Linked DNA regions of Homo sapiens. The protein of the gene in region 1 interacts with the protein of each later gene in a pairwise test. Each region holds a gene or a part of one and is shown in the gene's direction. Other genes may lie near its edges.

Region 1 (7,443 bases):
TTATTTTTTTGTGGAGATAGGGTCTCACTGTGTTGCACAGATTGGTCTCAAACTCCTGTCCTCAAGCAGACCTCCCGCCTTTGTCTCCTAAAGTGTTGGGATAACAGGCATGAGCCGCCACGCCTGGCCAATTTCAGAGTATTTTTAAGACTCTCCATGCAAACGGAAATACAGATATATAAGAGAGTGTCTTCCCAGCCTTCCCTCATGTGGACGAACCATTACATATTTGACCATTTCCCTATTGGAGGGCATTTTGGTTCTTCCTGCCCTCGCTGTCCCCAGTGTTGCTGCGCAAATCGACTTTTCCCCTAGTCACCTCACACTCACAAAGATGTATCTGTGAGATTTAGTTACCAGAGGAGGCAATGCTAGGGCCCCAGTGCAGGCATCTATGATTTTGACAGATCTTGCCAAATTGCCCTTCAGAGGGGCTGTTGCAGTTCACACGCCCTCTGGCCATGGAGAAGAGCACCTTCTTTTCCACAAAATTTGCCAGTAGAATATGGTATCAAATTTTTGGAGCTTTGCCAGTCTGATGGTTGGAAAGAAACAGAATCTCAGCGTTGCTTTATTTGTATTTCTCTTGTGAATGAGACCACACAACTTTCCCTATGTCTATTTGTATTTCTTTTTCTGTGAACTGAACATTTGGATCCACGGCCTGTTTTTCTATTTGGTTATTGGCCTTTGTCATATAGTTTCTAAGAGCAATGTAAACATTGGAGAGATTAGCCCTTTGTGGTAGGAGTTGCAAATGTTTCTCTGAGATTGGCATTTACTTTAGTTGTCTGTATGTAATATTGGTTTAAAGCAAAAATGTATTATCTGCTTCTATTTAAATATTCTAAAGCGGCAGATGGAGAGAGAGGAAAAAATGTCTTTCTCACATCTGCCATCCACTTCCACTGCTGGTGTGAGTTGTGTATCTTTTCAGATGTTTCTCTCTGTATCTACAAACATACATATAATTTTATTCTATTTTGTTTTTAAAGGAATAGCATAATGGTATTCATAGTTTATAGCAACTTGCTTTTTTTCTTTTTAATGCATCATATTATGGATAATTTCTCAAGTCAGTAAACATGGGTCTTCCTCACTCTTTTTAATGGCCCATGAGTAGATCAGCATTTATTTAACCGGTCCCCTGTTGTGAACACTTAGGTCTTTTCCTGATGTGCACCCGAACACTGCAGAAATGAAAGTGCTTACATAGGGCTAGGAGTCGGGGTGGGCAGAGAAGACCACTGTGGGGTTGATTCCTTACAGGTTGAATGGCATGGGCAAATGGCCTTCCAAAAGCCCTTTCCACTTACCTTCCCTCTGGCCATGGGTCCTTTCACCACCCAGTGCAAAAGTTTCTTCCTTATTTGTCAGGTTGGGCTGGTACCTTACCTTAGCCCCCTTCCTCATCTGGAGCAGCTTCCAGGATTGTTTTTCTTATGTTGTGATTGAAGGAATAATACTGCGTAGACCCTCTCTGATGTCCTAGGATGGCGGGGGATGGGAGGTGCATGTGCATCTCCTTCTGTCTCTTCATGCCTCTGCTTAGGAGGCGCCAGACCTGTAGAGAGGTGGACGTCAAGATGCCAGTTGTCCAGGGTCTTCGTTCACCCCTTAATGAGCACCAATTTTGTTTGTGTCCTTCGTAAACCCAGAGAGCCCACTCCAGTTCTACGTGAACTACCCCAACAGTGGAAGTGTTTCTGCATACGGTCCAGGCCTCGTGTATGGAGTGGCCAACAAAACTGCCACCTTCACCATCGTCACAGAGGATGCAGGAGAAGGTACTGTGTGGTTTACGTGTTTATACGCCTCCAGCTGTCCATTTGGAGGGTGAAGTGGACACGGTTCCAGGGTGGCTTTTAAAAGTGAGACAATCGAATGGTAGTATTTGTCTTGTCTTTTCTCTCGTGTAAATCTGTTTCTTCTTTAGAGCCGCTTCGTCTTCTACCCAGACAGACATTTTTGAAGTCCTTTGTGTTCTAACTGAAATCAGATTCATGCTATGAAATACTTTATGTGACTTGTCTGGAATTTAAGTGTGTTTTGGTTGGTGATGTTTTTGTTCTTGTTGCACATGTATCCACAAGACCACATGACTTACTGAGTGGCTCTTTTTGATAAAGCTGTGTGCCCATTCCCGTGGTATTCATGGATAATCCCAAATCTGTGGTTCTAATGGGATTTCCGTGATGGCAGCCAGTGCCTGATGGGCAGGGACAATCCACCTCTGCCCTCCACCACCCACCGTCTCCTATGTGTAATTGATGTACACGGCTCCTTCCTTTTCTCATCCCATGCATCCTGAGAGTAGAGAGAGCTCCAGGGTTACTTGCAGTGAAGAACTCAGATGTTTGGGGTTTCTTCTCAGTGGGTGTTTTTACTGCGTGGACTGCTTCATTCTGACAGATGTCCCTTTGCCCACAGCTCACGTGGAGTGCGTCAATCCATTGTCCCCAGCATCAGGGCTGCCCTGGATGAGTTGTTAAAAGGAAACTCTTAAAACAAGGCAACTCTCTCCCTAACACCCCTGCATCCCTGTTCCCACTTGTAGGTGGTCTGGACTTGGCTATTGAGGGCCCCTCAAAAGCAGAAATCAGCTGCATTGACAATAAAGATGGGACATGCACAGTGACCTACCTGCCGACTCTGCCAGGCGACTACAGCATTCTGGTCAAGTACAATGACAAGCACATCCCTGGCAGCCCCTTCACAGCCAAGATCACAGGTAGGGTTGTCTGGCTTCTGGGGTCTTCCTCGTGGGAAGTATGGCTGCCTCTGACTGCCACCCTCCTTATCAGACCCCTGGCAGCAGGCTAGACGTCTCTTTGAGTTTAGGTTTCACAGAGACTTGTTGAGGAGGAGCAGGGGATGGAATGCAATTTTGGATTAGCTAAATCCTTCTCTTGCTGATAATCCAGGAAAATGCGAGAGCTAGTATTTGGAGCACACTTTTATTGTGCCAGTGTGACTCTAGGGTGCAAAGAGAAAGCTCTCAGATGGAGTGTTCGAATCATACTTACTGCAATAGTGCATGAAGTGCATGAGCTTAGACATGCCCTTCAGCGTCACTACTAGGTAAATTTTCTGCTATCCCTTTTACAGATGGGAAAACTGAGGCTTGGCAAGGTAGTGGTGTAGCCAAGTTCACATATAGGTAAACAGATCCAGGTTATCAAATTCCAAAGCCCATGCTCCTCACCTTGCTGTGTTCAGGTTATGCTTTCAGTGGGTTATAAGGAAGATGCACAAGGCAGATCCTGTTTCCCCACCGTATTTAGACCTGTCTGTGAAGCAGCCAGTAGTACTGTGTGGAATGTGGTCATTGTTTACCTAGAAATGCCCACAGCCATGCCAGGCAGGTATGAGGTGCCTTCAACTAACAAAAATTCCTATATTTTATTTTATTTTTGAGACAGAGTCTCACTCTATCACCCAGGCTGGAGTTTTAGTGGCATGATCTCGGCTCACTGTGACCTCTACCTCCTGGGTTCAAGCGATTCTCCTGCCTCAGCCTCCTGAATAGCTGGGATTACAGCACCCACCACCACACCCAGCTTATTTTTGTATTTTTAATAGAGATGAAGTTTCACCATGTTGGACAGGCTGGTCTTGAACTCCTGACCTCAAGTGATTCGTCTGCCTCAGCCTCTCAAAGTGTTGGGATTAGGCACCTGGCCCAAAGATTCCTTTAAAATGTGGTCCATGAGGACTCAAGTCTCTAGGTCCTGCCAGCTTCTTGTCTTTGCTGCAAGCAGGCATGAATCCCATCATTCTTCATTGGTTGGGTCTACTCAGTGTTCAAGGCTCATTTTTTTTTCACTTAACTTTGTGTAATTAGTTCTTGCGTGTTCATCCGTGAACAGCATATGGCATGGCAGCTCTGTGAAGCCAGGGTAACCACATGTAACGGGAGTCCTTTTTGGGGGATGTTTCCCAGATGACAGCAGGCGGTGCTCCCAGGTGAAGTTGGGCTCAGCCGCTGACTTCCTGCTCGACATCAGTGAGACTGACCTCAGCAGCCTGACGGCCAGCATTAAGGCCCCATCTGGCCGAGACGAGCCCTGTCTCCTGAAGAGGCTGCCCAACAACCACATTGGTGAGCTAGGCTACCCTTCCTGGCTGGAGCCAGGACATCTTGGGTGGGAGATGGGGACTCTTGCAGTCCTTTCTTGGGAATGGGTAGCACAATGGAGTGTGATGTGATAAACCTGCTGGGTCACACGCACGATAAATGCCCAAGCGTATTTGTGCATTGTGATATCGACACTCTGGATTGTTGGGTGTCAGGAAAGAGGACATATTTCTATTTCTGAGAGTGTGTCTCTCTCCTGCTTCCTCTCCGCCATCCCCTTACAAGCCCCAATCTGTGTTCTGGTCCAGGCATCTCCTTCATCCCCCGGGAAGTGGGCGAACATCTGGTCAGCATCAAGAAAAATGGCAACCATGTGGCCAACAGCCCCGTGTCTATCATGGTGGTCCAGTCGGAGATTGGTGACGCCCGCCGAGCCAAAGTCTATGGCCGCGGCCTGTCAGAAGGCCGGACTTTCGAGATGTCTGACTTCATCGTGGACACAAGGGATGCAGGTCTGTGTGGTCCCAGGGGAGAGGCCCAGAGCTTGTGGGAACCGACTTATTTTGCTGAGGCAGCGTCATCTTTTCATCCTACCAACTCCTTTTCCTTTCTGAGCATCCTTCAAGCTATAGGTCCTTCTGCCTGCATTGTCTTTTATGCCTCATGACCATTGGCAAAAATGGGATTGTCTTTGTTTTTTAGATGATGAAACTGAGGCTTGCAAGGTTTAGAGCCCCCTCTGCACTAGGATCTGAACCCAGAGCCACAACACCTCGCAAACCCCTGTTTTCTTATCTGCTCTCCCACCCTTGTTCTCAGCTTCCCAGCGTCTCTCCAAGCAAAGAATGTTGGGTTGATTGGCCAAGACCATGGTCATCTGAGCAGAGCTTTTGTGGAAATGAAGCATCTCTTTCTGTTTTCTCTTTGAGATGGTTTGAGTTAGATTGTGTCTCTTCCAAGCTTGCCACACCCCAGTGCCTCCAGTCATCTGCTTTCTTGAAGGATGGCCACGCTGGTGAATTCTAGACAAATTCTAACCCGGGGAGAGGGCTGGAGAATTTCTGGTCCTGGTTGGGAGATACTCCCTGTTAAACCTTCGGATATGCTGACCTAGCTGAGGTAGCCAGGGGCTATTTAAAAATTCAAAATCTCAGATCTGGCTGTGGATAAACCCCCAAGGTGGTACGTGCAGTACTTGGAGGCGTGAGGGCAGAAGGTCCTCCCCAGCAGTTTGTACGGGACACATCATCTATGGGATATTAGTAAATATCCTTAAGGAAAGGCTTCTGTGGTCAAAACCAGGTTCAGCAGGTTATTTCACTATGGGGCTTCTCAGGACGCTTAACCTACTCATCCCCCTCTGGGCTTTGCAAACGAGGCCGCCATTGCTTTCTTTCTGCTATGTAGAAATAGATTGAGGCGTAAGGGTCGGATGTCCTTTCTCCATTCATCAGGCTCCCTCTTCCTGAGGAGCTGCTGTCAGAACAGCCTGGGGCTGCTGTGTTGCAGGTTATGGTGGCATATCCTTGGCGGTGGAAGGCCCCAGCAAAGTGGACATCCAGACGGAGGACCTGGAAGATGGCACCTGCAAAGTCTCCTACTTCCCTACCGTGCCTGGGGTTTATATCGTCTCCACCAAATTCGCTGACGAGCACGTGCCTGGTATGTGCATTCCATTCCCCTCCAGGTGGGATGCTTGGGTTTTCTGTAAATGCTGTGCCTTGGCCTCTGGCCTGCTCACAGGAGCCTTCTTGGGTCTTGCAGGGAGCCCATTTACCGTGAAGATCAGTGGGGAGGGAAGAGTCAAAGAGAGCATCACCCGCACCAGTCGGGCCCCGTCCGTGGCCACTGTCGGGAGCATTTGTGACCTGAACCTGAAAATCCCAGGTGGGCGTCGGGGACTAGTAGGGTGGGGAAGCCTTGGCTCCAGCCTTCAGGGCAGTGGGTGCCTTTGGGAACCAAGTTTAGGCATGGCCCAGAACACAGTATCCAAGTCGGCTGTGCTGACCTTTTCATTTCACTTCATTTCATTATGTTCTTCTATGTTTATTTTCACAGAGTCTCATCCAAGAAAAACAAATGTTTACCTTGCTACCTTTTTCCTCTTCCAAATAAAAATAGCTTTATTGTGTCACATGGGGGAAACGTAGATATGCTTTTAGATTTTTAGATTAACTATCTGTCAAATAGAATCATGTCAGTGAAAGAACTGGCCCTGCCGATGCCAGGGTCTGGAAGTATTTAAGAGGTGGCAGCCCAGCGGCATCCTTCTAGTATTTCTCTTTCATTCCTGAAATTAGAACGAGGGCTGTGCTGCAGAACTCGCTGGGCCACATCTAGCCCTTTGGTGGTGAATTGTTCTTCTTGGGCCCCGATTAGCCAGTCAACAGGTCACACAGTCTGTCTGAAATGTGTTCCAAGTTCTTTCTATAAAGAATCCTTCCAGAGGGAAGCCACTGTGAGTGAAAATTTTGAGGCTCCTCTGCCCAGAAGTTGGCATGTCCTGTGGAATTGCACAAATTCTACAGAGAAGGGAAATCTAAATCGTCTTCAGATGGAGCTTGTGTTGCGAGCTCTGGAGAGGGGGTTGTCTTTCTACACTGCATCTCCCATCCTTCCTAACGAGTCACGGAGCTGTCGACTCCGCCTTCTTGGCTTTAGTTAACAGGTTCTTCTTGTGTAGTCACATCAACGTCGGGTCACATGGGAATGTGGTAAAGCCTCATTACTGTAGAGTTCAGACATGATCACTTAAAAAGAGCTTTATTGGGCCGGGCGCGGTGGCTTACTCCTATAATCCCAGCACTTTGGGGGGCCGAGGCAGGCAGATCACCTGAGGTCAGGAGTTCGAGACCAGCCTGGCTAACATGGCAAAACCCTATCTCTTCTAAAAATACAAAAATAAGCAGGGCGTGGTGGCGGGCACCTGTAATCCCACCTACTCAGGAGGCTGAGGCACAAGAATTGCGTAAACCTGGGAGGTGGAGGTTGCAGTGAGCTGAAATTGCACCGCTGCACTCCAGCCTGGGCAACAAAGTGAGACTCCTTCTCAAAAAAAAAAAAAAAAAAAAAAAAGAGCTGTACTGATCGTTTGTAGTCATAAACAGTTCGTGTGCCTCAAGGTGGGGGGAGGAAGTGTCACCTCCCAGAGAGAGCTTGGTTCACATTTTAGGTACAGAGTTGGACCCTGGCTGCCCCATCCTCATAGCCACGTCTGCTCACTTTCCAGTCACATTGGTGTACTCATCCACTGTTTTTGTGGGCATCTTCCCACCTCAAAAAATAGACATCCACATCATCTCTTTCATGACCCTGATAAAATGCCATTTCATTCAATGGAACTATTGGTGATAGAAAAAGAGAGA
Region 2 (7,443 bases), on another chromosome or scaffold:
GGAAGAGCTGCCACCTCCCCCGGCAGAACCTGTTGAGAAAGGGGCATCCACAGGTAGGTGCACAGGGCTGAGAGGATACTGGGGTGATCTCATGGGGCCAGCATGGGCTTCCAGGTAGAAACCAAGAGAGTGAGGACCCCTCTTCCCATCCCCACCCCAGCTCATGTTAACAATGATGGGCTTTGTAGTTCGGCATCCATTTAATTTGTATTGCTTTAGCCTTTTTCCCTTTATACCTAAATTCTATTTAAAATGTTAGTCTGCAGTTTGCTATGATAGCAAAAATGTCTTGAATTTTTTCTCACTATTTTATTTTCTGAACACCTAATGCCCTCACACAGTGCAAAATAAACAGCATGAGTGGGGACACAGTGAGAAGCCTGCAACCTGCCCCATCCCCCTACCACCCGGTTTCCTTCCAGATGGGTGTCCTCTGTCATTGAGCTCTCATGTATCCTGCCAAAGACACTATGCACATACGAGCAAATACAAATATGTGTCCACCTGCTCCCTCCCCCCATTTTTCCATAAGTAGCAAACTAGGCTCTTCTGCTGTTCACTTTCTTTCCTTCGTACATCTCAGAGCTGGTCACACATCAGAATATAAAGTGGCTCCTGGCTGAGCGTGGTGGCTCACGCCTATAATCCCAGCATTTTGGGAGGCTGAGGCAGGTGGATCACCTGAGGTCAGGAGTTCGAGATCCGCCTGGCCAACATGGTGAAATGCTGTCTCTACTAAAAATACGAAAGTTAGCTGGGTGTGGTGGTGTGTGCCTGTAATCCCAGCTACTCGGGAGGCTGAGGCAGGAGAATCTCTTGAACCCAGGAGGCGGAGGTTGCAGTGAGCTGAGATTGCGCCACTGCTCTCCAGCCTGGGTGACAGAGTGAGCTTCCGTCTCAAAAAAATAAAAAAATAAAATAAAATAAATAAACAAAGTGGCTCCTGGCTGGGTGTAGTGGTTCATGCCTGTAATCCCAGCACTTTGGGAGGTCAAGGCAGCCAACAATCCCTTTGTCCTGAAACTGCTGTCCAGAATTCCTTATTTATTTATGTTATTTATTTTTATTTTTATTTTTTTAGACAGAGTCTTGCTCTGTCACCAGGCTAGAGTGCAGTGGCGCGATCTTGGCTCATTGCAACCTCCACCTCCTGGGTTTAAGCGAGTCTCCTGCCTCAGTCTCCTGAGTACTGGGACTACAGGCGCCCGCTACCACGCCCAGCTAATTTTTGTATTTTTAGTAGAGACAGGGTTTCACCATGTTGGCCAGATGGTCTCGATCTCTTGACCTTGTGATCCGCCCACCTCGGCATCCCAAAGTGCTGAGATTACAGGTGTGAGCCACCGCGCCGGGCTCTTTATTTTTTTTAATTTTTATTGTTTTTCCTGAAACAGAGCCTCACTCTGTTACCCATGCTGGAGTGCAATGGCACAGTCTCGGCTCACTATAACCTCTGCCTCCTAGGTTCAAGTGATTCTCCTGCCTCAGCCCCATGAGTAGCTGGGACTACGGGGGCATGCCACTATGCCCGGCTAATTTTTGTATTTTTAGTAGAGATGGGGTTTCACCATGTTGGCCAGGCTGGTCTTGAACTCCTGTCCTCAAGTGATCCGCTCACCTTGGCCTCCCAAAGTGCTGGCATTACAGGTGTGAGCCACCATGCCTGACTCAGATTCCTTTTTAATGCTCCTCATGACCCTCTGTATTTGTCATTTGAGGAATTTGCAGGGTTTAAGACAGAGCCTCGGGTATCCTGAGCATGTTCTGGGTGGTGCCTGGGTACAGTCCTCACAGGCTGGGCTGGTGATGGCCTGTGTCTCCCCTACCCCAGACATCTGTGCCTTCTGCCACAAGACCGTGTCCCCCCGAGAGCTGGCTGTGGAGGCCATGAAGAGGCAGTACCATGCCCAGTGCTTCACGTGCCGCACCTGCCGCCGCCAGCTGGCTGGGCAGAGCTTCTACCAGAAGGATGGGCGACCCCTCTGCGAACCCTGCTACCAGGTAACCCCTGCAGCAGACCTCTGGGTGCCAGGCAGTGAGCTGAGCACTTAGAATATGTTGCACCATTTCATTCCCCACACAGTCCTGGGAAGTAGGCACTATTGACCCCTTTCACAGATGAGGAAACTGAGGCTCAGAAAGAAGGAGCCCAGTGAAGGCGATTGGTTTCCTAGGGCTGCCTGTAAGAGATCACCACAACCTTCGTGGCTTCCAGCAGTACACGTTTATTCTGTCCCAGTTCGGGAGATCAAAAGTCCAAAATCAGCTTCACTGGGCCAAAACCAAGGTGGTGTGCTGTCTGGAGGCTTGAGGGAGAACCCACATCTCTGCCTTTTGCAATTTCTTTTTTTCTTCTTCTTCTTCTTTTTTTTTGCGGTGGGGGACGGAGTCTCACTCTATCGCCCAGGCTGGAGTGCAGTGGCACGATGTCAGCTCACTGCAACCTCGGCCACCCAGGTTCAAGGGATTCTCCTGCCTCAGCCTCCCGAGTAGCTGGGATTACAGGCACCTGACACCACACCCGGCTAATTTTTGTATTTTTGGTAGAGATGGGGTTTCACCATCTTGGCCAGGCTGGTCTTGAACTCCTGACCTCGTGAGCCACCCACCTCGACCTCCCAAAGTGCTGGGATTACAGGCATGAGCCACTGCGCCCAGCCTGTTTTTTTTTGTTTTTTTTTTTTTTTAAGATGGAGGCTCATTCTGTCACCCCAGCTGGAGTGCAGTCGTACAATCTCAGATCACTGCAACCTCTGCTTCCCGGGTTGAAGCAATTCCCATGTCTCAGCCTCCTGAGTAGCTGGGACTACAGGTGCCTGCCACCATGCCCAACTAATTTTTGTATTTTTAGTAGAGATGGGATTTCACCACTTTGGCCAGGCTGGTCTCAAACTCCTGACCTCAAGGAATCCACCCCCTCGGCCTCACAAAGTGCTGGGATTACAGGTGTGAGCCACCGCACCTGGCCCCTTTTGCAGTTTATGAAGCTGCATTCTCCTTGACTCCTTCCTCTGCTTCAAAGCCAGCAGTGTAGCATCCCACTTCAGCGGCCCTATTGTCACCTCTGTGTCAAGTTACAGGGACACGCGATGGCATTTAGGACCCACCTGGATAATCAGGATAATCTCCCCCATCTTAAGATCCTTAGCTCATCCCATCTGAAAGCCTCTTTTGCCGGGCAAGGTAACATTCGGGGTCCAGAGATAAGGACTGGATATCTTTGGGGGCATCTCTTAGCTACCACACGAGGTCACACGAGATGGCCAAGGAGCTGGGATTCTACTCCACACCCATCTGGCTCTGGAGCCTGCCATCAGTCTTGCCACTATCTCCCCTAGAGTAGAGCCACAGGGTTCCAATGTTTGATCTCACGGGAATCTGTGTTGCTTCCGGGTACCAAGTGCAATCTGGGAGAGCCAGCTGGGATGCCAGCACACTGGAATTTCTAACTCTTGGATGGTTTGTGGTGGCATGTTGAGTGTGGTGACCACCCACAGCCGCATCCCCTGGGGATGTGTAGGCCACTCTTTGTGCTTATGAATGAGGAACACCTGGAAATCAGCATTTTGAATCAGTGTCTCAAGTGATTCTCATGCATATAGAAGTTTGAAAACGGCTGATTTGAAGGGTTAGAGTATTTGGAGCTGAGACTCTCCAGAAGAATCCAAACAATCCAATCCCAGGCTCACCACCAGTGAGGCACTGTGGGAAGAGAGAGGAGCCAGGCCCTCCCTGCCGTGTCCCTGTGACCCCATCAACATCATGGGGGAGTGTTCCTCAGGGGTGAGACACCAGGGGAGGAGGGGTGTCCAGCTGGAAGCAGGAAGCAGCCAGGAGGAAGACTTGAGCAGTGTGCTGGGGAGAGAAGGGCCATGCCCATGAGAGGGAGGGGGGAGTGGGAGATGCCCCCACACGTGTCCAGGTGAGGTCAAGGTAAAATGCACAGGAGCACAGCCAGGAAGGAGAGACAGCATGTCCAGGAGAAAAGGTGGAAAGGCTAGAGGGAAGCCCACTGCCCTGCCTCGGGAATCTCTTTGTCATTGCTCCTCATTCCAGAAGGAATTTGAGGCAGCTTCTATGAATGCATGTATACCAGCCAGGCGCGGTGGCTCACACCTGCAATCTCAGCACTTTGGGAGGCTGAGGTGGGAGGATTACTTGAGGTCAGAAGTTCAAGACGAGCCTGGGCAACATAGCAAGACTCCATCTCTATTTTAATATAGCTATTTTTTTATTAAAATATGTTTTTAAAGAGAATGCATATATACCTATAGACCACAATAACATGCGTGCACTGAAAAATTCCACGTGATTCTCCCGCCTCAGCCTCTCAAGTAGCTGGGATTACAGTTGCCCACCACCACGCCCGGCTATTTTTTGTATTTTTAGTAGAGACGGGGGTTTCACCATGTTGGCCAGGCTTGTCTGGAACTCCTGACCTCAGGAGATCTGCCTGCCTCAGCCTCCCAAAGTCCAGGGATTACAGGCATAAGCCACCTTGCCTGGCGCATTTCTTCTTAAAGCATCATATAAAATTATGTTAACTGGCCAGGTGCCGTGGCTCATGCCAGGCCGAGGCAGGTGGATCACCTGAGGTTAGGAGTTCGAGACCAGCCTGACCAAAATGGAAAAACCCTGTCTCTACTAAAAATACAAAAACTAGCCAGGCATGGTGCGTGCCTGTAATCCCAGCTACTTGGGAGGCTGAGGCAGGAGAATCACTTGAACCCGGGAGGCAGAGGCTGCAGTGAGTCAAGATCACACCACTGCACTCCAGCCTGCGCAACAGAGCAAGACTCCATCTCAAAAAAAAGAAAAAGCCTGGGCACGGTGGCTCACGCCTGTAATCCCAGCACTTTGGGAGGCTGAGGCAGGCAGATCACCTGAGGTCAGGAGTTCGAGACCAGCCTGACCAACATGGAGAAACCCCGTCTCTACTAAAAATACAAAAAATTAGCCGGATGTGGTGGCGCATGCCTGTAATCCCACCTACTCGGGAGGCTGAGGCAGGAGAATTGCTTTAACCCGGGAAACGAGGTTGTGGTGAGCCAAGATTGCGCCACTGCACTTCAGCCTGATTGACAAGAGCAAAACTCCGTCTCAGAAAAAAAAAAAAAAAAAAAGGTAGATCTCATGTTAAGTGTTCTTCCCACAATAAAACAATTTTTTAAAGACTGCAATAATACTACGATATGTAAAATAAAGACATCCAAACAGAAGGAAAATCAAAATAGAAAGTGAGACGAGATCAAAGGGAATGTTACTACCCAAAATGTGTGAGGAAGCCAGACACGGTGGCTCACGCCTGTAATCCCAGCACTTTGGGAAGCTAACGTGGGTTGATCACTTGAGGTCAGGAGTTCGAAACCAGCCTGGCCAACATGGTGAAACACCGTGTCTACAAAAAATTAGCCGGGCGTGGTGGCGCACACCTGTAGTCCCAGCTACTCAGGAGGCTGAGGCATGAGAATCACTTGAACCTCAAGTAGAGGATGCAGTGAGCTGAGATTGGGGCACTGCACTCCAGCCTCAGTAACAGAGCGAGACTCTGTCCCAAAACAAAACAAGAACCAAATAACAACAAAAAAGCCCTATAATGGTTTCTAAACGTGAAATGTGGAATTTGGCTCTGAGCTTCCAAGTGGCCAAATGGAAAAGGGAAAGAATTTCAAGTCTTCTTGTCTGTATGATAAAGCACCCAATTCTCCTGAGAATTCCTTTTCCTGACCCTGAGGTTTAAGCGAGGTTTCTCCTATAGCTCTGTGGACCCTGGCCATAAACATATCCCAGTAACAAGAAATGCAGCCATAGCATCAGGGCATCAGGGCAGTATTCCTTGCTGTAAGCCAAGGATGCAAGGCTAAGCTCAATTTGTTATAAGCAATGGTGGAGGTTTTGGGCGATAGTTACAGGTTGTCTGCAGGCCTCTCCTGTACTTCCCAGTTCCTGGGCCCCTGAGGGCAGCCTCTCAGAAGAAGACGACCCTCGTGGGTTGGGGTGGGTGTGTCGTGGATGGTTCTGGCAGTGGCCTCTGTCCTAGGACACACTGGAGAGGTGCGGCAAGTGTGGCGAGGTGGTCCGGGACCACATCATCAGGGCCCTGGGCCAGGCCTTCCACCCCTCCTGCTTCACGTGTGTGACCTGCGCCCGGTGCATTGGGGATGAGAGCTTTGCCCTGGGCAGCCAGAACGAGGTGTACTGCCTGGACGACTTCTACAGGTACGAGAAGGGTTTGTGCACTGGGTGGGGTGCAGGGACAGGGCGAGACCCAAGCAGGGTGAAGGAGCTGAGCTTGAGTCCTGGGTGCTGGGCCAGAGTTTCCTGTCTACTGGTTTATTATAAAGAATATTACAGGGCTGGGCTGGGCGCGGTGGCTCACGCCTGTAATCCCAGCACTTTGGGAGGCCGAGGCGGGTGGATCACGAGGTCAGGAGATCGAGATCATCCTGGCTAACATGGTGAAACCCCGTCTCTACTAAAAATACAAAAAAAATTAGCCAGGCATGGTGGCGGGCGCCTGTAGTCCCAGCTACTCGGGAGGCTGAGGCAGGAGAATGGCGTGAACCTGGGAGGCAGAGCTTGCAGTGAGCCGAGATCACGCCACTGCACTCCAGCCTGGGCAACAGAGTGTGAGACTCCGTCTCAAAAAAAAAAAAAAAAAAAAAAGAATATTACAGTGCTGGGGGCAGTGGCTCACACCTGTAATCCCAGCACTTTTGGAGGCCAAGGTGGGCAGATCATGAGGTCAGGAGTTTGAGGCCAGCCTGGCCAATACGGTAAAACCCCATCTCTACAAAAAATACAAAAATTAGCTGAGCATGGTGGTGTGTGCCTGTAGTCCCAGCTACTTGGGAGGCTGAGGCAGAAGAATCACTTGAACCCAGGAGGTGGAGTTTGCAGTGAGCCGAGATCGCACCACTGCACTCCAGCCTGGGTGACAGAGTGAGACTCTGTCTCAAAAAAAAAAAAAAAGAAAAGGATATTACAGCGATACAGACAGACACGTGAAGAGATGCCTAGGATGAGGTCTAGGGGAAGGGGCAAGGAGCTTACATGCCCTCCCTCCCCAAGTGTGCCACCCTCCAGGAACCCCCACATGTTCAGCCACCTGAAAGCTCCCGAACCCTGTCCTCTTGGGCCTTCTATGGAGACGTCATTGGATAGGCATGATTGACCACCCAGTAGAAATTCGGCTGGAGGAAAAGGGTATGGTGGAAGCTAATAAACTGAGAGGGAAACCTAGCAGGGCCTGTCCAGAGTCATCTTGGTCTCTATGCAGCTTTTCTTCCTCCAGGATGGAGGGCAGGATTCTCCCTGGAATGAATGAAGGGCTTATGACTCAGTCAGATAAGGCAGGCCAGAGAATTTCTTTATGGCCAGCTCCCAGCAAGAAAGGTGGGAGAAGATTCCTGCCTTGGGGAGAAAAAGGAACAGGCAAAAGGT
Region 3 (7,443 bases), on another chromosome or scaffold:
TGATGGACTCTCACTCTGTTGCCCAGCCTAGAGTGCAATGGCACGATCTTGGCTCACTGGAACCTCCACCTCCTGGGTTCAAGCGATTCTCCCGCCTCAGCCTCCTGAGTAGCTGGGATTACAGGCACCTGCCACCACACCCGGCTAATTTTTGAATTATTAGAGAGGTAGGGTTTCGCCATGTTGGCCAGGCTGGTCTCGAACTTCTGACCTCAGGTGATCCACCTGCCTTGGCCTCCCAAAGTGCTGGGATTACAGAAGTGAGCCACCATGCCCGGCCTGGTGCCTATTTTAATGTCAGGTTGGGTATTTGACTCTTGATAAGCAAATGCTTCATAATTGATAATGATGATATCTCAACTTCAATCCTATGCACAGTGTTAGCCAAAATAATGTAAAGTGTCAGCAGGAGCAAGGTTAAAGATGAGATAAAAACAATACATAGGAGGCATGTGGGTTAGATATTGCAGCACATCAACTTAATCAAAATTTAGAGGACAAGAATAGTAACAACTCATAGAATAAGTCACAACCTGAACATAAACCTGGGTCTGTGTGACTAGTTATACTCCCTGAGCTATAACCACATTCCTACCTTTTGGCCCAGAAGTCCCATTTCTGAAATTTTATCCTGATTAAATAATTGAAAAGTGAAAAACAATCTTGGAGCTGACCAAAACTTTGATCACTTTGACTCATGCTAGCCCACCTAGATGATCACACCCCTCAGCTAGACCACTAGACCACTAGTAATGCTATGAGGCTGCACCAACATCCACAGACAAAATTTTAAAGGCAAATCTTTAGGATGTATCTTTTTAAAAAAATCGCTTAATATTGCCTGTCCTTAATGTCGCCTGAGGGAATATTAAGATCAGTGGGTCAGGAAAAGAGTCACGGCATTCCAGCACTTTGGGAGGCCAAGGCGGGTGGATCACTTAAGGCCAGGAGTTTGAGACCAGCCTGGCCAACATGGTGAAACCCCATCTCTACTAAAAATACAAAAAAATTAGCCGGGCGTGGTGGCGTACGCCTGTAATCCCAGCTACTCCAGAGGCAGAGGCAGGAGAATCACTTGAACCCAGGAAGCGGAGGTTCCAGTGAGCTGAGATTGCACCACTGCACTCCAGCCTGGGTGACAGAGTGAGACTCTGTCTCAAAAAATAATAAATAAATAAATAAATAAATAAATAAATAAATAAATAAATAAAAGAGTCGTGACATTAATTATGGCAAAAGTCAGTATTCACTGAACAACAGAGGTAGAAAGCTAAAATGACAAAAGGGCTTTGTATGTTTTCTGAGACAGGGAAGACAGTTGCACTTCCATTTAATCTGACAGAGATAAATAAGTGACAATCCCAGGCCTCCAGGAGCTTGCAGATGTGGCAGACTGTAATAAAAATGTGGACGGGCTCTGGAAGGTGAAGGGCATTATGCACAGCAGAGGTGAAGACTTTGTACTGGGGAGGAGAACAAGGAGGATAGGGATGGTTCCTTCACATTTGTCCAGTCCACATTCCACTAGAAGCACAAAGCCCTGGCACGGCACACTTGGACCATTGTCAAGTGTCTGTCAGAGAAAAACTCCCCAGCCTTGACCTTAACTAGGGCTATAAGCACTGGCCATTAACTGTGTCCATGGCTGCAGAGATAGTTATAACAATTTACAAGATACCTTACCTTACCAGAAGATGAAGATGAAGAAGAAGAAGAAGGCGGAGAAGGAGAAAAAGAAGGAGAAGGAGAAGTGGGAGGAGAAGCAGTAGAAGTGGAAGAGGTAGAAAATGTTCAAACAGAGTTTCCAGGAGAAGATGAAAACCCAGAAAAAGCTTCAGAGCTCTCTCAGGTGGAGCTGCAGGCTGCCCCTGGGGCACTTCCAGTTTCCTCTCCAGAGCCACCTCCAGCCCTGCCACCTGCTGCGGATGCCCCTGTGACACAGGTAACCCCTCCTGAGTCTCTTTCTACAGGGCACATGGGCGTGTCTCCTTATGGAATAGCCTAAACAATTTACCCTATTCTGCCTTAAGAAAAAGATAACTATATGCCAGACATTCGTATATGGTAGACGAAAGATTTCAGGACAGTCCTCATGTCGGGGAGAAAAGTCCTCTAGGTGATTCAACAGGTTCTTTGTTGTTATTGTTAGTTAACAAAATTTAATACAACTTTCCCACCAGTAATGCCCTCAAATCAAAGGCAATCTTTGTCTGGAAATTGTGTGTGTGTGTGTGTGTGTGTGTGTGTGTGTGTGTGTGTGTCCATGTCTGTGTGTCATGTTAATTCATAGAGAGCTGATATCATGGGGACTGGGTCTGCTCTTTGTTACTTAGTGAATGTATATGTAGGGTATAGGATGAGAAATAAATAGCATACAGAGTAAGAAATAAAAGTGATTATACTTTCAGAACTTTGAATTTTCTGTAGATAATTGAGGGGGTAAATAGAGAAACTACACTAGTTTATGTTCCTGTTGCTTACCCTGAAATACAACTTATGTATTTTTCCTTCAGTGAGCAAACAATGAAGCCTGGTTTTCTATGGATTTGTCATTTGATGAGATTGTGTGTTGACAGAATTGTTTAAAACATATCTTAAGAAATAAGCTCACCCCAGATGCTGCACCTAATTGGTTGACCTCATGTTTCTAATACGTCACCGTCCAGTTTTCAAGCCTTTGTGCAGACTCCATGATACTTCAGCAGACAGGATCCCAACCTTTTGAGTTTGCAGGCAGTGCAGACTCATCAGAGAGGAGTCCTGCTTCTGCAACTGCTTTTGAAGTGGATTGAAACAAAACTCCAGAGGGGGATCTCAGAGATGGAACTGTATTTCTATGCTCTGTCTCCACAGGAAACCAGGCTAAAATGCCATTTATAGTCTAGAATTTTTAAATTCTGAGCATTTCAGTTGTATTAAAATTGAAAGAGGTATAGTAACTAAGTGAGGGTTGGATTTGATCAATAAGATTAATTTTTGTTTTTTATAATGAGGTTTTTGGGACTCACGTATAAAGCCAACAAATTATTCTAGTCAATAGTTTGACCCTTTTCCCATATCTGATATTTTATAACCAACATTCACTGAGGTTTCTGCTCTCTGCCTGCCTGGGCTCCCAGTGAGTGAAAGACAAGCTCAGAAAAGAAGAGGGCACCCATCCAGATGCTGGACAGAGGGGCACTGTAGTCACCATTCTGCCCTTAGCGCTTCTGGAGGGTGGGATGAACTAAAACGGCCACCAAGGCACTGCATGCAGGGAGCGCACAGTGTTCAAACCCAAAGGGAACTAAAATCAACTGCTTTTTCTTCTTCTTCTTCTTTTTTTTTTTCTTTACTTTTGAATTTATCTGTCCTGATTAAGGGGGAGGTTGTACCCACTGGCTCTGAGCAGACCACAGAGTCTGAAACTCCAGTCCCTGCAGCAGCAGAAACTGCGGATCCCTTGTTTTACCCTAGTTGGTATAAAGGCCAAACCCGGAAAGCCACCACCAACCCACCTTGCACCCCAGGGAGCGAAGGTCTGGGGCAAATAGGGCCTCCAGGTTCTGAGGATTCGAATGTACGGAAGGCAGAAGTGGCAGCAGCCGCAGCGAGTGAGAGGGCAGCTGTGAGTGGTAAGGAAACTAGTGCACCTGCAGCTACTTCTCAGGTTAGTGATGATGCACTTGTGTCTATGCTTTCCCGCGCCCCCTAGGGTCCCACTGGAACAGGCCACAGCAAGAAGAAAAAGGGTTTTCAAAGGGGCAGAGAGAAACCTCAGCCAGGGGAAAAGTACAGAAACAATTCATCCCCCAATGTTGGCTTGTTTTGAGCTCTATATAAAAGAAAACATAAAACAAAACAAATTTGAGTTCACTCTCCTGGTGCATGGTGACCTCACACCTGGCTTCCCAGGGGAGGGGTGCAAGTGAGCCTGGCCCTTAGGCATGCTACTGAGCGCTGCTTCATCTGCAGTGACTGGCTGTGTCCCCAGTCCTCCTTACCAACGGCCACTTGCCCTTGCTCAGCCTTCCCTGTGTCCTCCTTGGGCTTCTAAAGACTAATCCCCTGCTTTTGTGTCATTCCCAGCAACCCCCAAGGAGCACACTTGAGTTTTAAGTCTGTTCTGGAGAATAACCTCTGATTCATGGATTCTTGGAGTGTGCTGGCTACAGCTAGACAGAGACAGTCTTGGCTTGATTAAACCTGTGCTTCCTAAGCATGTACTCCTGGGAGTGGAAAAGCACAGGTGCTCCTCCACAGAGATTTTTTTCAAGAGACTCTTTCTTTATATGATGAGTTTGAAGTCCATGTCTTCCCCCTAACACTTGGTTAGATGTTTGCATGTCTTGAAGAGTCCACAGAAGAAATCTTTTACAATTTCTTCACAAGGAAGAATGTTCATGGTGACTCCATACTCATGAGCATTCTTAAATGATGTGTAGGGTGTGAGTGTTGCCCAGGCAAGAAGCTGCCAGAAAGCACTCTCCAGTTCCATGCTCCTGGGTCATCAGGTGATTGATTATGAACCACAAACAACATGTTCTCAAAAATCAGACAATGACTTATTATTTTGATTGTATCTGCCCAAGAGACTTCAATTCCATGAGGTAGTAAAAGGAAATGATTTTGGAAAATTAAAAGTAACATGCTTTGGGGTTGGATGTTTATTTTCACAGATAAAATGACAAAAATAAATGTTTGGTGGGAAGAAATCTTATGAGGTGGTTTTTAGGTAAAAGATGCAGTAGACTGATTATTTCTAGAAAATGTGTGGCAATTCTTATACATGGTAGTAGAAGCTGTGTGCGGAGGGGCTGTTTTCTGAAAACAGTAGTGCACTACCCCATGAAGAGCACGTAGTAGGGCTCAAGCCAAAATGAAAAGTCCATTGAAATAATGTTGAAAATAATTATTTGTGATAATATCAGTGAAGCTTTCTTCTTGTTTTCTCACAGGAGTTAGTAATCTGCCTAGCGCTTTTGGCTTTTCTTATTCTTCACTACATCTGGAGTCAGATTCAGTGCTTGATTTTTACTTTAATGGGTAGGAAATATTTTCTTTTCCCTTGACTAACATCTCACATAGTTTCTTCCATAATGTTCCTCTTCTATAGGCCCAGAGATTAATTTCTCCCCAAATCTTGAGGCTCAGTCCTCCCAAAAGAACATTGTTCTCAGATTATACTGGAGGCCTCAAGCTCACACAATGCAATCGCCTCAAGACCTCTTTCTGAGGAGAATTGCTCCATTATCTATTCCTGCATGGAGGGGAACCTTGACTGAGAACAGTAACTCCATGGGCAATTATTCAGTAATCCAGGAGGAGCAAACCCTCCAGAATGGTCATTAGGGGAGGCCAGTTTCAAGTGTCCATAATGCGGTGAGGACTTACTGCTCGTAGAGAAAGGAGCGGCAAAGGACTCCTGCAGGAAAATGCAGGTTTCCATAGATTAAGTACAAGCATTTCATCTGCTTACACCAGAGATGCCCAGGAGGTGGCCAAGTGACTCCTCGTGGGATGATGTTCTAGGCAGTTCCTATGCAGGTGAGCAGGTGGGTTCTCTTTGAACCCTCAGACTCTACAGAGTTTCTCCTGGGAGAGGAGGTCCCTGAGAGAAAGATGCCCTGACTGAAGAAATATCTGGGGGATTGCAGCCACGTGAGACCTGAATGAATTAACAGCCAGAGGATCAATGTGCACTTACCAGCTATCAGGAATTAGAACCAAGAACTAAGCCATAAAGTCATCAAGCAGTCCATTTATATTATTTCCGAGTCACCGTTCTCATAGCCAAGCCTTTGCTTGATTGCTGTTATGAGGTTTGCTTGAGGACTGACATCATAATCCTTTAATACCCTTTTGAAAGTTCTCAGTTTAATTAATAATATTTAAAGATTCCAACTTCCATGTACTTTTGTGTAAATGACCCTGCTGGGCCTGAGACCCAACTCCTTGTTCCTGTAGCTCAAAGGCAGTTCAGGGTCAATGGTGCTGAAAAGCCTCGGCTATTTCTGGCTCACTGACTTTTCCCTGGGTTGACACTGACTCTTCTGGAAGCTCCCTTCATAGACTTTCTGCCTCATTAGCCATCTGCTCAGCAATGGCGGTGGCGTCTCCATTGGTCTCTGCCGTGTCTGGAACTGTGTGTGAGCAGGACCTGCCCACAATGTCCAATAGTCAGCTGGAAACCTGTGCACCCTAGAGTGTCCTGAGTGTCCTTACAGTCTGCTCAGCTGCCCAACTCCTTCAGACATTATCTGTGGTAAAAAGGAGTGGGAGGATGTATTGGCCATGGACTCAGAGGGGTGAATGGTGAGAGAGAAAACTCCATGCTTTATTGGAACCAGGACCTAATTGTGGATCTGAATAATTGTCTGAAGGGTTCTGTTTACATTCTGAGAATTCGGGTTTAGGGCTTTGTCACTACATATATGTCTTGTATTGCTTCTCTGAGGCTGCAGAGGGAGTGTCATGCTTCAAGGCTGTGATCCACTGAGCCCATGTCATGTATGCTGACATCCACGTGCCTGCCTAGGGAGAGGAGGGTGGGGCAGGTGGAGCAGGTGTGGGGAGGGCGTTGACATCCAGTATTGCAAAAAACCTTACTGTATAGTTCTTGGTGTTTGAGGAAGGGCCTTTCACATAGAGAAGGACACCTGTTCATGATGGAGTACTACTCTTTGATCCCAGAAATGGGATATGGGCAGGTTGATAGAGACCTCACTATAGTAGCAAATTCCCGGCCTCTGAGAATATTTTGCAGGTCTGATTCACCTTCACCACTTCAGAACCCAGTTTACCAGATTCATATTTGTCCAGTTCAAGGTTAGAGTGCTAGAATTTCACATTTCATCACTAGGCTTACCTTGAGTATTTAGGATGTGGTAAGAGTTCTCTTTGATTCAGTGGTGGTCTTATCTCTCTTTACTAGGTGGTCCCGTGTCAGAGTAATGCTGCCTTTAAAACTCAGAAGCATCTCAGGCTCACTTGCTGATCTGTAAACTACATTCAGCCCACAACAGCTGAACTGCAAACCTTTTAGAAGCAAATGCTCTATTTCCTGGTGCTTTCCTTACATCCATGTACACAGTGAAACATGCCCTCGATTTTACTGCCTGTGGTTTCTGGTGCTGAACAATTTCTGCTTTATCACATACCTTACCTTCTCTCTTCACCCAAGTACACAGGCAAAAAAAACCGGTCATGGCAAAAACCAAACATCAGCTTCCTCTACGAGTGATGGACAGGACCACTACTTTTTGTTAGATCAGAAGAGTGCTGTAGCTCCCCCATGGGCATTCTCTAAGAAAAAGCAAGGTTTGGATTCAGCCTTGTGGTGAATTTGAACTCATCAAAGGCCCCAGTTTCCTTGGGCTTCTACAGGATCTCTATTTGGTGGATTAACTCAGCAGCTGCTCTGGCTGATACTTGAGCTGGACACAGCAGCTGCCTCAGGGTAAG
Region 4 (7,443 bases), on another chromosome or scaffold:
TCTCCCCTCTTTGAAGGTTGGAGGGTGGGGCTGAAAGTTCTAACCTCTAATACCTGGGTTGGTTTTTCTGGTAACCTGTCCCCTTCCTGAAGCTGTTTAGGTGCCCACCTAGAATTACCTCATTAACATAAACTCAGGAGTGACTGAAGGGGACTCTTGATGAGTAAGAAAACATACTCCTATCATTCAGGAAATTCCAAGGGTTTCAGGAGCTCTGTGCCAGGAATCAGTGACAAAGAACAAATACATGTTTTTCATTACACACATTTTTAAAAAGTAAAAAGAAACAGGTAGAATTATTTTTAATAATATATTTTATATTATCCAGTATATCAAAAATACTATTTTGACATATCAATATTTAAAAATATTGAGTTGTTTTGCTTTTTTAACATTAAGTTCAAAATCCAATGTGTGTTTTACATTTACAGCACTTCTCAGTTTGGATTAATTTCAAGAGCTCACTAGCTACATGTGGCCAAAGGGCTATTGTATTACATAGGGCAGGTCTAGATCATCTTTTTCAATGGCAGCAAGTCTTCTAATCTCATTTAGATGGTCATTGAAGTTGTTTCCAACCTATAATCACTATCGATTATGTTGCAAAGAACATGGGATTAGCATCCACTGTCAGTTGCAAAAAGATCCCCCCAAAAAGTAGCTTAAATAAGGTAGAAGCCTATTTCTCTCAAGCATAAAAGTGTGGAGAAAAGCAATCAATAATTGGTTAAGATCCTATCCAGTATTTTATCCTGTTTCTGATGTGAGGCTGCTCTGCCTAGAGTTATCTCTTTAGTTTTAAGTCAGCTGCTGGATCTTTTAAGGATTCCAAGGAGCAAAAGGGGAAAGAATTCAAAAGGCATAAGCTGCTGCCTTTTTAAGAAGGTTTCTTGGAAGTTACACAAAAAAACTTTCAACTGTTGCTCATTGACCAGCATTTAGTTCTCTGGCAACAGTTAGCTGCAAGGAAGTCTTGGGAAATGTAGTCTTTTAACTGGATCATTGTTAAATCAGGGATTTTGTTTGAAAAAGGAGGTGGGGAATAGGTGGTAGCCAGCCAGCAACTTGTGTTGTCATCAAGCCTGCGTGCATCTTTGCACACTTGCCCGATTATCCCCTTAGATAAATTCCTAGATGTTCATCACTGGTTCAAAGGGTTTATAGCTTTATATTTTGATTTATTTTTCCAATTTGCCTTTTAGAAAAGTTATGCCAATTTGTACTCCCACCTCTAACAATCAGTGAGTGCTGTTTCCTCACACAATTGCCAGTGATGGCTGTTAGCAATCTTTAAAATTTTTGCCAATATGACCAGCAAAAAAAGTGTCATTAGTGGTTTAATGTGCATTTACTGTACTCCTAATGAGGTTAAGCATCATCTCATATGCTTTATGACCATTTGTATATCTTCTTTGCGAATGGCACTTTCGGTTTTCTTTATTGATACATAATATTTTATGTATTTGTGTGAGTGCTTTTTACTTGTATGGATTGTGTAATAATCAAGTCAGGGTATTTGAGATTTCCATCACCTTGAGTGCTTATCATTTTTATGTGTTGGTACCTTTTCAGTTCTTTTGGATATTTTTTTCTAAGGGATTTAAAAAACTCTTTCATTGATTTCTAAGAGCTTTTATAATATTTTAATAATCAGGATATTAATCCTTAGATATTTGTGTGAGCTATTTTCTTTTTTTCCCCTCAGGATATGCTTAAGTTATGTGTTAGATATTTTCTTTGTTGACTTTAGGTCATGTTTATTTATTATGTAGCTAAATCTGTCAGTGTTTCCACTTATGATTTTTGATTTTGTATCATGATTGGAAAGGGCTTCCCCATCTCTAGATTATTTTCTTCTAATGCTTTTATGTTTCTTTTATTTTTATCTTTACGTCTTTTCTTTTTTATTTAAGTAAATTCCATCTGGAATTTATTTTGATTAAACTTGCTGTCTATCTCAGTTCTTATTTTTTCAAATAGCAAAGTTATTAACCATGTGTTGAAAATTTATTTCCCACTGAGTTTTATATGCTCATCATATATACTAAATTCCCATCTATGCTCAAGATTTTCTGAAAGTACTGATGCTTTTGTTTTTTTGTTTTTAAACAGAAAAGCTTGTTTTTGTTTTTACTGGAGGGTTAGGTGGCAGTACTGGTATTTTTATTGGTTGTTTTTTGCATTAGTTAAAAAGCACTTCACATTTCAATGGTTTTTTAGCCTTATAGTGAAGAAGAAGAAGGCCAAGAGTCAAGTGAAGAGGGCAGTGAAGAAGATGTAGAGGCGGTGGATGAAACAGCAGATGGAGCAGAAGTTAAGCAAAGGTACAAAAGTGGGAAAGGATATCAAAGTAGGTTTAGGAAACATTTTATTTGTTTATTTTTATTATTATAACTAATTCAATACTTTCTTGAAATGGAGACAACTTGTACCTGGAGAGCTTTTCATACTATTGTCTGCTTAAAGATCATTACTGTTTTAGTTTTGTAATTATTTTTAATACATTTAGCTCTACCTCGTTTTCATCTGGAAACTGTTAGATTTTCAAAACTTACTGATGATTATCAACTGTGATTAAAGAAGTTCCCTAATTGAGTGAATAGGCATAACCTGACCTGACTCACTTTGCTATTTTGTCTCCCCAGAACTGATCCCCACTGGAGTGCTGTTCAGAAAGCGATTTCAGAGGCGGGCATCTTCTGTCTTGTTAATCATGTCTCGTTTTGCTACCTAATAGTTCTGATGCGAAATAGGATGGAGACTGTGGAAGACACCAATGGATCTGAAACAGGGTTCAGGGCATGGAATGTACAGAGCAGAGGACGTATATTTCTGGTTTCTAAGCCTGTGCTCCAAGTAACATTTCTCATTAGTTTTTTTTTTTTTTTGTACAAAAAGAATAGATAATTCATGGTGTCACTTGAGGACTTGGAAACATTCTCATTGATCCTGCTTTCCTATCATTTGAGTGGAAACAGATGTTAAATTTTATTTACTATTCGAAAAATCCTGAAAGCCTTTAATAAAAAGTAAGAAATTGGCCAGGCATGGTGATTCACACTGGTAATCCCAACATTTTGGGAAGCTGAAGCAGGAGGATCACTTGAGGCCAGGAATTCAAGACCAGCTTGAGCAACATAGTGAGACCCTATCCTACAAAAAATAAGAAAAATTAGCCAGGTGTGGTGGCTCATGCCTGTAGTCCCAGCTACTCGGGAGGCTGAGGTGGGAGGATTGCATGAGTTTGGGAAGTCAAGGCTGTAGTGAGCTGTGATTGTGCCACTGCACTCCAGAGCATGAGTGACAGGGCAAGACCCTGTCTTAAAAAAAAAAAAGTAATTAATTACATTTTTTTAAAGGAGAAATGATCCATAATTCTGTCATTAAAAAAAAATTACAGGCCGGGCACAGTGGCTCATGGGCACAGTGGCTCACACCTGTAATCCCAGCACTTTGGGAGGCCAAGGCGGGTGGATCACCTGGGGTCAAGAGTTCAAGACCAGCCTAGTCAACACAGCGAAACCTCACCTCGACTAAAAATAGAAAAATTAGCTGGGCGTGGTAGCGCATGTCTGTAGTCCCAGCTCCTGGGGAGGCTGAGGCAGGAGAATTGCTTGAACCTGGGAGGCGGAGGTTGCAGTGAGCCGAGAATACTCCACTGTACTCCAGCCTGGGCGACAGAGTGAGACTCCGTCTCAAAAAACAAAAAAATAATTACATAGCCAAATGAAAATTCTCTTCCTCAAACTCATAAGTAATCACCATTAACAATTTAGTACGTGTCCTTCCTGACCTTTTTCGTTATTTATTACTTATAAGTACATCCTTGTATGTGTGAGGGTGTGTGTCTATGAGTAGTGTGTATGTGTATACAAAAAAAATCCATTAATTCTTCAGTGCATGTGATTTGCCAATAGACATTAACTTACCTGTGAAATGGAAGCGCAGGGTGGAGCAGGACAGGAGCAGGGACATTTTGATAAGGGTATACTTGAAGCAGCTGCTCCGGAACACACAGCTCTGCACGCTGGGCACTGTATGGGGCTTAGGTCCTTAGGAGAGGCCAGGGTGCTGTGATGGCATCCTCTCAGGAATTTGGGGCCAAATCGTATTATTCTTCCACTAAAGTCTGTATGTTTATATTTTTCTTTTTTGGGTTATAGTTACTCTAGTGATAAAGTATTATAGAGATGCAGAAACATGACTGAAAACAAATCCATTTTGATGTTACTGTCTTCAGCAGATAAACACTGTTGATGTGTTAACTACGATGGGAGCTATTCCTGCAGGGTTCAGGCCTTCCACGCTCTCACAGCTTCTGGAGGAAGGTAATGCGTGCCTATCAGCCACTGCACTCTTTCAGCAAAGCAGTCAAGATCCACGTCTAATTTTTCTGTCACAGGCAAAACACATTGTTGAAGAAGATGTTGAATCTCACATCTCTTTGGTGCTCATCTTTTCCTCATCCTTCCTATGACAGTGAGGAAAGATCCCTGATCCTATCAGAGGCCAGCCTGTTTACCAGTGCTCCGGGTTCCAGCCCCTTTCTTTTTTTCAAAAATGTGACTCCTTTAATTTTCAGCCCTTTCCTGTGTCTTTAGCTGGCCCACCTTCCCCACACTGGTTCATTCCCTCATCTGTGCTATCAGCACACCTAATTCTCCCCACCTTAAAGGATCAGCCCCTTGAATCCTATCCCATTCTAGCCAAAACCTCCTTTTCTCTGATCTTCTTCCAAGCAAGACTTTTCCAAAGAATTATCTCCATTTGGAATTTTCATTTTCCTTACTCATTCTTGGCTTTCCCTGTATTTGGCAACTTTTGTCTATAAGCTCATTTTAAAGAGGATTCATGCTGGGGGACAAGGGGTGTCCTGTATACCCTGAGTTGTTGAGTTGTCATGGAAGGGCTGCTTTGAGGATGCCTTTGCTGGGAAGGTTCTTCCCAGTACTCCCTAAATTCCCATCTTTTCATCCTTCAGGTCTCGCGGTAAATTCTGCCTTCCCAGAGATGCCTTCCTTGAGTAATGTGGGTTTCCCTTACTCCCATTCATGTGAACACCCTTTATAGCTCTATGTCCCCTAATAATTATTTTATTTATTTGCTTGTCTACTTATTTTCTAAGAAAATTTTCCTCCCATTCAACTGTAAACTATGGAGGGCAGGGGACATATCTCTGATTTATCTTTGTATTTCTAGAACCTGGTGTAGCATCTGGCAAGAGTAGAAGCTCAAAAATTATTTCTCGAATGGATAAATGATGTTATTAAAAGTATTATTCATGACTAAAGCATGGAGGAAGAGCATAAAATGCTTTTGTGTTAAGAAGTAAAACTAACGACTTTGTTTTTTCTGAAGTCTCCAAAAAGTGCTCATAGATTTCTGCATTTTACAAAAATATTTGAATGAATCCTTGTCATCATGGGGCATATTATTGGCCTAAAAGTCTTTCTTAAAGGTGCTTTAAGATGATCTTTTATGTGTTTGTATCTGTAAGTTTTGTACTGCTGTTTTTATCCATAAATCTATATTGGCGCTTCTATTTTGGAAAGCAAGTTCTTAGTAAGCAGCGTGGCATTTTGGAAGTGCCTGTACTCTAGTTCATAGCATAACATTATGGATTTTTGATTTGGAGTTTCTTTCTTTGTAAGAAAATGAAGAAAAAATGATTTTTTCAGGGAATCAATTTCGAGCAAATTACTTCTTACAACCAGAGCTCATGCCTTCACAACTGGCCTTCAGAGATCTGATGTGGGATGCTACAGAAGGCACTGTAAGTATAGTTACTATCAGTAAAAGTGTAACTCTTCCAGATTTTGTCATAGTTGCAATTAGACAAACAACATGTTAATTGACTAATGAATTATAAAAAACAAAAAAATTGTTTATGATAATTTTGAAAATAGCGATATTTTTATAACTAAGGCAGAATTTGGACTTGCTACCTTGACTTTATCTTGTTTCTCTTCTCCATTGCACTCTTCTCTCATTGTTAGAAAGGAAATAATACTAGGTTTCTATCTTAATCATTCTTTGCCTCAATTTCTTCATCTGTAAAGATGGAGTAATAGTAATGCTTCCAACATAAAGTTATTTTGATAATTATGTGTGTGAAGGGTTTTGAATAATGCCTGGCATATGAAAAGAACTCAATAGATGTTAGCCATTATTATCATTTATAGTAGTAGTAGCAGTAGTAGTAGTATTTTTGAGACAGGGTCTCCCTCTGTCACCCAGGCTAGAGGGCAGTGGTGTGATCATGGCTCACTGTAACCTCAAATTCCTGGGCTCAAGCGACCCTCCCACTTCAGCTTCCTGAGTAGCTGGGGCCACAGGCCTACACCACCATGCCCAGGTAATTTTTGTATTTTTTGTAAAGATGGGGTTTTGCCACGTTGCCAGGCTGGTCTCAAACTCCTGAGCTCAAGCAATCTGCCCTCCTATCCCTCCCAAAGTGCTAGGATTACAAGTGTGAGCCACCAGTCCCAGTCTAATATAAGTTATTTAAATGAAAAGGCTTATGACCGTAAAGCAGAATGTAAAGTTTAATGAATTGAAGCTGTTCTTAAAAAATAAAAAATCAGAATGCCAATTTATTTACTCACAATCTGAATTATACCTATGAAGCAGATCTGAATAAATATATCAGATAGTGCATTCTCTCTGTTAAAACACCTATTAAGAAACTAAGGAACTATGCAGATAATTGCTTGGAATAAAAAATAGTGGGGATAATCTTAATGCCAGGTGGCATTGGTTTTATGCTGCGTTAGCCTTCTGCACTTACCCACATTCTGTAGGAGTGAACCGGGACTGGAATACAGTGATTCTATAGTCATAGATCATATACATTTTGCCTGCCAATATTTATTGTTCCTTTCATCACAGCTTTTAAGTATTTAAGAAAAATGCAATATTTCAAATGTAACTCTATGAAAAATTTACCTAAAATGACTGATTTAATTTTCAATGAACAGAGTATTGAAACTTTTATTGTATATGTGTAAATTTTTTCTTTTTTAAAAATTCTGTATACATTTTCATAAGCCGAATTCACAAAAGACAGATTTGTGTTAGAAATCATAAAAATAAACTTTTTTATAACTAATTTTTCTTTCAGATTAGGTCGAGACCAAGTCGTATTTCATTGATTCTGACATTATGGAGCTGTAAAATGATTCCTCTTCCAGGAATGAGCATACAGGTTCTCAGCAGACATGTACGCCTCTGTCTATTTGATGGTAATAAGGTAAGGTTACTGAGAAGTAAATCAATTCATACTAGGATTATGGAGAAACATTCCCTTAGATTCTTTTCCATTCAACTCCTCCCCAATTCCCAAGAGAGTATTTTTTACCTAGTACCAAAGAAAAATTTGAATGACTCTTTGAAAAATTCATTTTTTAAATGAGATACAGGTTAAACAGTACTTAGATGGAAATT

The links.
Region 2: the proteins of FLNB (region 1) and FBLIM1 interact in a two-hybrid assay, tested with the Homo sapiens proteins (one study listed by BioGRID).
Region 3: the proteins of FLNB (region 1) and TRIM55 interact in a two-hybrid assay, tested with the Homo sapiens proteins (one study listed by BioGRID).
Region 4: the proteins of FLNB (region 1) and NPHP1 interact in a two-hybrid assay, tested with the Homo sapiens proteins (one study listed by BioGRID).

What each region holds. Positions count from the first base shown.
Region 1 is NC_000003.12:58,144,263-58,151,705, forward strand, and holds part of FLNB (filamin-B), read left to right. Parts: intron 1-1,658; coding exon 1,659-1,787; intron 1,788-2,557; coding exon 2,558-2,731; intron 2,732-3,943; coding exon 3,944-4,102; intron 4,103-4,386; coding exon 4,387-4,590; intron 4,591-5,587; coding exon 5,588-5,740; intron 5,741-5,842; coding exon 5,843-5,965; intron 5,966-7,443. UniProt on the Homo sapiens protein: Connects cell membrane constituents to the actin cytoskeleton. May promote orthogonal branching of actin filaments and links actin filaments to membrane glycoproteins. Anchors various transmembrane proteins to the actin cytoskeleton.
Region 2 is NC_000001.11:15,768,578-15,776,020, forward strand, and holds part of FBLIM1 (filamin-binding LIM protein 1), read left to right. Parts: coding exon 1-53; intron 54-1,831; coding exon 1,832-2,001; intron 2,002-6,040; coding exon 6,041-6,219; coding exon of another isoform or gene 6,220-6,454; exon of another isoform or gene 6,455-6,644; intron 6,645-7,443. UniProt on the Homo sapiens protein: Serves as an anchoring site for cell-ECM adhesion proteins and filamin-containing actin filaments. Is implicated in cell shape modulation (spreading) and motility.
Region 3 is NC_000008.11:66,150,686-66,158,128, forward strand, and holds part of TRIM55 (tripartite motif-containing protein 55), read left to right. Parts: intron 1-1,691; coding exon 1,692-1,942; intron 1,943-3,361; coding exon 3,362-3,649; intron 3,650-4,937; coding exon of another isoform or gene 4,938-5,025; intron 5,026-7,443. UniProt on the Homo sapiens protein: E3 ubiquitin ligase that plays an important role in regulating cardiac development and contractility, muscle growth, metabolism, and fiber-type differentiation.
Region 4 is NC_000002.12:110,159,933-110,167,375, reverse strand, and holds part of NPHP1 (nephrocystin-1), read left to right. Parts: intron 1-2,220; coding exon 2,221-2,324; intron 2,325-2,645; coding exon 2,646-2,688; coding exon of another isoform or gene 2,689-2,856; intron 2,857-4,240; coding exon 4,241-4,328; intron 4,329-5,678; coding exon 5,679-5,773; intron 5,774-7,120; coding exon 7,121-7,249; intron 7,250-7,443. UniProt on the Homo sapiens protein: Together with BCAR1 it may play a role in the control of epithelial cell polarity. Involved in the organization of apical junctions in kidney cells together with NPHP4 and RPGRIP1L/NPHP8. Does not seem to be strictly required for ciliogenesis.